2 separate regions of the Homo sapiens genome follow, and region 1 is linked to region 2. Evidence: fine-mapped expression QTL. A gene starts in region 2. The other region holds a variant in brackets. All regions are shown on one strand. Distances are between the middles of the regions. Region 1 overlaps HSPBAP1 (HSPB1 associated protein 1). Region 2 holds the start of LINC02035 (long intergenic non-protein coding RNA 2035).

Region 1 (4,398 bases), 130 kb after region 2:
ATGCTGCTGTGTCTAGGTTAAAAAAAAAAAAAGATAAAGGAGAAGTTGGACAGTTTTCTGATAAAAATAGCAATTTTTGGCAGGAAATAAACTTGTTCTCTTTAGTTATAGAAAGCAGATCTAGGACCCTCCTCTGTAAGCTACCAGGAAGTAGATACTGATTTTGTAGTAAGTGGTCAACTAGCTAGCTACTTGTCGCTCTTTTCAGGGATGGTGTAGAATAGAACTTGCTGAGAATAGATGATTTTTAAAGATTTTTCCAACTCTTGAGGTATGTATGAGTAGACTCCAGAACAGATCACCCCACTGATCACCCTTTTTGGTTTTACAGATGCAGCACTCAAACAGGGCCTCCTGTTTCTAGCAAGACTCAAGACAGATTCCTGGGCCCACATTGACTTCAGACATTTGACTACCCATAAGTGGCTGAACTTAATTGGGAAGAGAATCCCAACTCTCAATGCTGTCTATTTTTACACTGACAATTTTGCTTTTTTTTTTTTTTTTTTGAGACAAGGTCTTGCTCTGTCACTCAGGCACTCAGGCTGGAGTGCTGTGGTGCAAACATAGCTCCCTGAAGCCTTGACCTCCCAAGCTCAAGTGATCCTCCCTTCTCAGCCTCCCAAGTAGCTGGGACCACAGGTGCATGCCACCACGCCCAGCCAATTTGTTAAAAAAAAAAAAAAAACCTTTTTGTAGAGACAGAGCCTCACCAAACATTGCCCACGCTGGTCTTGAACTCCTGGACCCAGGCAGTCCTCCCACCTCAGCCTCCCAGAGTGCTGGGATTACAGGCATGAGCCACTGCACCTGGCTGACAGTTTTGCTTTTTAAGTCATTATTACTGTTAGACAGGAGGCCAGGGAAGTCTCTCCTCAGTTTCTCATACAGTAACCTCACCCTGTAGAAAAACCTTCAGTGATTCTTTCCAAAGCAGGGCTCTAGAACAGGGTTTTTCATGTGGGGTTGGTCTGTCACCTCTTTGAAAGTATATATAAAGTTTCGTGTGTGCTTTTTTCTGAGGAGAAGGGGCTTTGGTATTCATTAGATTCCTGAAGGGATGTATCTATAAGATTAAGAATCACATGACCTATCTCTTCTTAGCTAAGGCAAGTCTCTCTTTTTTCCTTTTTATACTGAATGGCTTTCAGCTACCTTTAGTTAAATTCCTCAGACTGAGGTGTGGTAAATTGTTCAACAAGGACCAGGTTAATTGGAAGCCTCCCCTAAGCTCCCTGGCTGGGTGCAGGGCCCTCCTGCTGTGATCTTAAAGCATTCCCTGCATACTTGTGTCAGAGCGCTTGTTACATCATATTGAAAGGCTCTGTTTATGGGATTATCACTCATTATTAGACTTGAAGGGTTGGCCTGTGTTATATTAATTTTTGTATCCCCAGCACCCAGCATCATACCACGTATATGGTAGGTACTCAAAAATGTCATTGGCCTGAACTATTTTAACCATCATAAGTCAACAGATTCTTCTTTCCCTCCCAAGCAGCCAGTGTGTTCCAAGCTGTAACCCTGAGCCAGGTACTAAATTAGGCATTGAGAAAACAGGGGTAAGCTCCCAGTATGGAGCTTATAGGCTACATGCAGAGAGAACAGGATTTTTGCCACCCACTGGAACTGCCACATGTGAGCCATGTGCATTTACAGTGGTGCTGACCTTGCAAAAATTCCCCCTTCTATGACAGACATTAATTATGTGCACGTATTCAGCCATTTTCATCACTCAAAGCAAAAATGAAAAAAAAAAATGCTCTTTCTAGTCTTCCTCAAAACCATCCATTAAATTTCTCTTTAAAATCCTTTCTCTTTGAATACAGCTGTTAATGTTTTCCCTCTAAAAATAGAAAATTTAGACTGTAGTTACTGATAAAAGGAGTGTCAGCATTGAGAACGATGTTCTGCACATAGAAGTGGGGTGTTTTTTTTTTTGCTTTTATTTTTTAAAACTGAAAGGAAAACCTCATGATTAAAATAAAAATAAGGCAGAGCCATCATGCCTGGTTCACTAGTATGTTTTTTTTCTTTTCTAGCTTATAAATCTGTTTAATCACATGGATTTGGGTTTATGTGTGACCCTATTTTTCTGTGCTGCAAATGCGCCATCGGCTTCTAAAAGTATAGGCTTTTCCCAGTAGTTGACTTGGGCAGGATTTGCTCACAGAACCAGGCATATGGAGAGTCTTAAGTCCAGAGCACTATGCTGTCTCTGTTCTAAAGATCATTGCACTTAAGAAGTTCATGACTTTGGGGAGTATATTGAAAGCCATCCATGGATGTATATTTCAAAAGATGTATTTTGACACCCTCATCTGAAGACTGATCTAGTAGGTATGAGCTAAGGCTCCAGCATTGATAGTTTTAAGTAACCCCACTAATGTAGGAGAAGTCTTCATTTATGTGGTCATTGAAGTACACAAAGTTAGTAAGTTGCGTATGTACACAAATATCTGCACTGCTTAGAGGAA[A/G]TACGGCTTTCTGACTTCTTCGGTTGTGTCTCAGAGATATTTGAAATAATGCCATTTCCGCTGCATTCACTGTTCTAACTGCCCAAAACACGCTTTCCCTAAATATCAGCATAATCCTGTCTGTTTATTGTCTGTTTCCAACTCTGAAATGTAAGCTTCATCCGAGTAGGCATTTTGTCTCTTTTGTTCATTGATTCATTACAAGCTTCCAGAACAGTGCCTGGCATGTTGTAAGTAGTCAGTAAATATTTGTTGAATGATTACTATTAGTGTGGTTATTCAAATATGTTATTGGCTAAAAAGATTTCTTGAACTGCCCTGGAAACCTAACCTCTTCCATCTGTAGCATTTTCCATAATAGAATATTCCAACTGCTAAATAACAGATGTGCAAGTGAAAATGGGCAGCATTACCATACAGAGAAGTTGGTTAGTTCTTGATGGATTGCAACTTTATTTCAAAACAGGATGTGAAATGGTCTGACTTCGGGTTTCCTGGAAGAAATGGACAGGAAAGTACATTGTGGATTGGCTCCTTGGGAGCCCACACACCCTGTCATCTGGACTCCTATGGTTGTAACTTGGTATTCCAGGTACAAGGAAGGTAATGTGTGTGTGTGTGTGTGTGTGTGTGTGTGTGTGGAACGCACATGTGCATGCATGCAATAGGGGTGGCAGAGAGAATAGGGCAATACCCCAAGGTGTAGTCCCAGCCCCATCCTGTCAGCCTGCCTCATGATTAGGGCAGACCTCTTAACCTCTGGTTTTGGTTTCTCCTCTGTGAAATGAGGACAGTTAAAATGGTGGTTTACAGGTGCGTGCCTTGTCATGATCAGGATTGTCTTCAGAGAGTTTATTCTAGAACTCTGAGATTCCACTCCCAGGTCAGCTAGACAGCTCTCTGCTTGGTCTTTTTTTTTTTTTTTTTTTTGGTAAATTAGAGACATTTGAGACAGTCTTGCTCTGTTGCCCAGGCTGGAGTGCAATGGCATGATCATAGCTCCTGGACCTCAAGCCATCCTCCTGCCGCAGCCTCTCAAGTATCTAGGACTACAGGTGTGTGCCAGTATGCCCAGCTAATTTAAAAAACTTTTTATTTAGAGATGGAGTCTTTCTGTGTTGCCCAAGTATGGCCTCAAACCATACTCCTGCCTTGGCCTCTCAAAGTTCTGGTGTGAGCCACTATGCCCAGCCTATGCTTAGCTTTTCTTTTTTACATAAGAGTTTGTAGTTTTCAAACTTTTATTTAAAAATGGGAACACCCTTTCTTCAAATCTAAATAAATAAGAGCAGAGCAGTTTGTTGAAAGGAAGAGGCTTCACTGTTGCCCTCAAGCTCCTCTCCAAGGGATGCCAGCGATCCTGGTTTGAAAAATACTGGACGCTTTCAACTCTAAATTTTAGTTTGTGCCTACTTGACACAATACAGTGTATTGTTACCTTAGGTCAGTTTTTGTCTCCATCTATCTGTGGACTCTAGAAGATACGAGGGATAGGCAGTGCTTTTGATATACCTGGTTTCTGGAGTTCTATGAGAGTCTAAGTGTTTGTGCCACTTGGAGGATGTACTCAGATGTATGTGCAGCCTTATTTTCCCCTAATTAATGATGCCCCAGTCTTTTCTCCTGGTCATGTGGGACATTTACAGGGCAGCACAGAGAGTAAAACAGAAAAGGTCATGTGCAAGTTCTCAGACCTATTAGATGTGAAAAGGATTATGAGCAGATTCAGGAGAAATAGTCAGTATGTCTGTGGATACATTTCACATGTGAAGAACTCTGAGAATTACAGAATGGTAGAAGTTAGTCCACTCTCTGATGCATTCCGTCTTTATTAAAGGGCATAGAATGTGTCAGGTACATAGCTACACGCTGTGGATGCAAGAGTCAATCAGATGAGTGTGGTCTCTATCCTTGTGGAGTT
Region 2 (4,398 bases):
GTTATGTGTGTAGGCCAAGGAAGTGATTTTGTTTGGGACTTGTGGATGCAGTGTATTAGGATGGAGGCGGGATTTTCTTAATGCTTAATTTTCACAAGCCTCCAAAATGACATATTTCTGGTGGGGAGGGAAGTAAATTCGGAACTCGGGGCATTTGTAGTAAATGAAATAATTGGCAGGAACTAAAACCTGCCCTTTTTAGCATTCTTTGGGTTTCTGCAAAGGCTCAGGGGGCTGGGACTTCACTAGCAATACATCAAGTGTGATTAGGTTTACTCACACGTATAAACTGAAGGGTTTCTGCAGTCTCCAGCCCCCAAAGTAGCCCTGCTCTATGTGGCTACCTGATATCCCAAATTCTACCATTAGAAAGCCCCCTTTTGGTATTTAGCCTTTGTTCTTGTTAGTATTCAAATTCCCCTTAGAAAGGAGACCCACAAAGCCTTATGAGTATAAGCATCTTAGCATGTATGCATTTGTTAAATTTTGTCTTAAGAGAAGGCTGGGGTACCAACAACATTCCCAATTTCCCATAGGAGTAATAACCAATTCCTCAGCCATGGAATGATGGTAGGGTTGGGATTCCTCATGCAAAAATTAATTCTGTGCCTCCAGACAGATCCAGATCTTACTCATGAAAAGAATATCAGTGGGACAGAATGTCTTTTCCTCAAAATCAGTTATGGTTTATGATTTGAGAACAATATATGGGCTCCTGTTATGCATAATTATTTGGGAAATTGTCACTAGCTCTTTGTAATTGTTAGTTCAGGAGTGTGTTTTTTAAAAAAAAACCTTCTGACTGGGCATGGTGGCTCATGCCTGGAATCCCGGTACTTTGGGAAGCCGGCAGGAGGATCGCTTGAGGCCAGGAGTTCGAGAATGGCCTGGCCAACATGGCAAAACCCCATCTCTACTAAAAATACAAAAATTAGCTGGGTATGGTGGCGCATGTCTGTAGTCCCAGCTACTCGGGAGGATGAGGCACGAGAATCCCTTGAACCCGGGAGGCGGAGGTTGCAGTGAGCCAAGATCACACCACTGCACTCCAGCCTGGGAAACAGAGCAAGACTCTGTCTCAAAACTATCTCAAAAAAAAAAAAAAAACTTCATTTTTCTGATTATCTTTCACTGCCATGTAATTGTACATATATAAATTACTCTGCATACAGAATGAATAGTATACATGGATGAAGGAACGAATAGATATAACAGTCTGAAAGTTTCCCTAATGCTGGCACCTGTAACACATCACTAACAGGGCCTTGTAGAAGTTCCTTATTGGTTTGAGAAGATAATGTATAAACTGGGAGTACTGGTGGAAAAGTATTGCACTCATGTTTTCTACTTTTTGGTTGTGTGTGACCAAGGGGTATAGATCAGAGAACTGTAAAACTTTTCAGCAAAAAGAAACATCTTCTCTGACCCTCCTATTTCAGAAGTGAGGAAGCCAAAGTTCAAAGAGAACAGATGACTTGCCCAAAGCCCCATGTCTTCAGCCATGCAGAAGACAGACGCCCAGACTTCCTGACACTGAGGTTGGTCTTCTGGTTCACTTCTCTCTCTCAGAGCTATTAATATTATGCTCACATTATAGTCACGAGGAAGTCTTGTTGGCCGGACATGGGGGCTCACGCCTTTAATCCCAACTCTTTGGGAAGCTGAGGTGGGAGGATTGCTTAAGTCCAGGAGTTCAAGACCAGCTTGGGGGAACATAGTGAGACCCCTTCTCCATAAAAAATAAAAAATTAGCCAGGGGTGGTGGCATGCGCTTGTAGTCTTAGCTACGCAGGAGGCTGAGGCAGGAAGATCACTTGAGCCCAGTAGTCTGAGGATACAGTGAGCTATGATCATGCCACTGCACTCCAGCCTGGATGACAGAGACTGTCTCAAAACAAACAAACAAACAAAAAAACCCTTGTTTACTAACACTTGAGTACAGATCATTCCTTGACATGCTGAAACTTAGCTCTTATTCTGTAAAATATCTGCACAGTTTACTGGAAGAATCTGACCATGTGGAGATGGCATCATTGCAAAGCAACTTACAATTCTTTGATGCCTTAACTAAAGATGTAAGTTCAAGGATTGGCTTTACTACCTGACCTAACAGTTTTGATTTCTACAAGTGCAAACCCATGCTGCCTCATGATGAATCCAATCAAACCAAAGGACTCGTATCTCGTTTGATCTGATTCTGGTGAGCAAATGCAGTACCCCGACCTGGCTCCCAGTATGCTATCTCAACATCAGATGACAGATTTTTCTCTTATTGCATTTGATACATTTAATAAACCCTGTGTTTCATATATAAAGTCCTTTGGGAAAATAAACAGCACCTGCAGCTTATCTCCTCCCACAGACACTGAAAAAGCAATTTCTTCTTATTGAATGTGGATGCAGCATAAGATTTCATATGTTCACGTACAGGGCTCACATGAGGGGGGCTACCGCACAAATGGAAACACCAAGGTGCTGGGCACCTCTCCAGCTTTACAGACTGCACATGCTTTGGTCATGTTCATATTTAAATAAGAATCAACTGGTATTTCTGAATTAGAAGAAATCTAAGGGAACATTTTTGCTCACTCCCTCATTTTAGAGATGTTGCTAAAGGAGAAATGAAGTGACTTGCTCAAGGTCAAATAGCTGAAGTCACCAGGCCAGGGTTAAGAGCCAGACCCGTGGGCTCCTACACCAGTGCTCTTTTTCTCTGTCCTCTCTAGTAGGGTCCATGAAGAATCTGCATGCCCGGCTCTCTCCTCTCCACCGCTGGCAACTCGTAAAATCTGGGTGTCACACAGCTCGCTCCCAAGCATTGTCAGAAATAAGAAGACACCATCAGAAAGGGGAAAGCTGGATGGGCAAGAAGACAGGAAAGGAAAAAGTGACCAAATGAAGCTGAGCTTCTGGCCTGCTACAGTTCATCATTTCTACTGACAGCTTGAAAATTAGGAAAGACACAGAAGTTGACCAGGAAACAATAAGAATTATCAGAATCTCCATTAGCTATTTTTTCAAAAAACGAAATTGCACAAGCCAGGCTGGGCAACATGGTGAAACCCCATCTCTACGAAAAATATAAAAAATTAGCTGGCATGGTGGTATACACCTGTAGTCCCAGCTACTTGGGGGGCTGAGGCTGGAGGCTTGCTTGAGCCTGGAAGATTGAGGCTGCAGTGGGCTGAGATCACACCAGGGCACTCAAGCCTGAATGACAAAGTGAGACCCTGTCTAAAAAAAAAAAAAAAAATTGCACAAGATTATTCTTTTGGCTTCTGTTTTCTATAATATTGTGTGCCTCTGCAGAGACAGGGAAGCCAAGAAAGTCCTGTGGAGGAAATCTATATGGATTTCATAGGTCGGTTACTCACTTTCTTTTCTCACAGTACAGGGAGCTTAGTTGATGGTGTTAAGAACAGAAATTGTATTTCCAGTAAGAAAACACAATAGTGCATATTGGAACTCAACTCAATAATGCATATTGGAACTCACTTTTGAACTTTAGAATATGATAAAGCTTGATGGTACATAAGCAGGTCTGTGAAACACCTACATTAACCACAATATGCTACATCTGACAGATTCATCTGGGAGAGAAATAAGGATCTCAGAAACTTCTGCTTCTGCCCATAAAGTTTATACCAATATGGTCCAAGAAAGAGATCCCTAGGTGACTCGATTTTAAATGCCCCCCGAGTTTTTATACATAGATATGTAAATGCATACACAAGTTTCTTCTGAAAGAATGAATGATGATACCCTCTGGAGAGAATGGATTAAACAGCATGTTTGTATGGAGGTAGACTTTACTTTCTATTCCTGTACTATTTTATAATAGTTATACACTCATGTATTTCTCATGTAATTTTCAAAACTCTAAAAGAAATGAAAAAAATTACTTAAAAGAATTACTTATGGCTAACACATTGATCATTTAGGGATTGAATGCTGGTCTAGGAGCCAAGTGATCTGCTAAAACCTGGCTGTGTCATTTAACCTAAAAGGTTCTCTACTGATTTGTAAAATGAGGTGGCTGAATTAGATCATTTCTTTGATTCTATGATCCTTCTGGGTAAATGAGAAAGCCAATTAGAATTAGATGAAGCCTAAATTAAATAGTGCTTTAAAAGAAGTATCATTTTCTAACATTAAGGTAAACTGACAGTTTCTCCAAGTTATCCTTGCCATTTTGTTCAAGGTTGCAGAAGCTGTCTTTATAAATCAGAAGAATTTATAAAGTAGGGAATGCGAAGAGTTCTGTGATGTTTGGGTTGATATTCTGGTATCCCCTTTGGAGTCCCAAGCCTTACAATGTACTATGTCCAGCAAGCACGTTTAGAGTTAAAATAGCTTGATGTGTTTTGATTATTTCATCAAAGCTACTGAAATCAATTC

The links. PIP is the estimated chance that this variant, and not a neighbour inherited with it, causes the effect. A credible set is the group of variants that fine-mapping cannot tell apart.
Region 1: its variant is the best candidate, but not a certain one, in a credible set for the expression of LINC02035 in whole blood (TOPMed, PIP 0.76).

The regions. Positions count from the first base shown.
Region 1 is chr3:122,757,906-122,762,303 of GRCh38, reverse strand. HSPBAP1 (HSPB1 associated protein 1) reads left to right here. Exons shown (of 8, transcript NM_024610.6): 4 at 2,944-3,080. Among named protein-coding and RNA genes, the nearest start is that of HSPBAP1, 34 kb to the left of the region's middle. The variant A/G (reference allele first, on the strand shown) is at 2,478.
Region 2 is chr3:122,884,288-122,888,685 of GRCh38, reverse strand. LINC02035 (long intergenic non-protein coding RNA 2035) reads right to left here and starts at 2,173. Exons shown (of 1, transcript NR_024618.1): 1 at 1-2,173.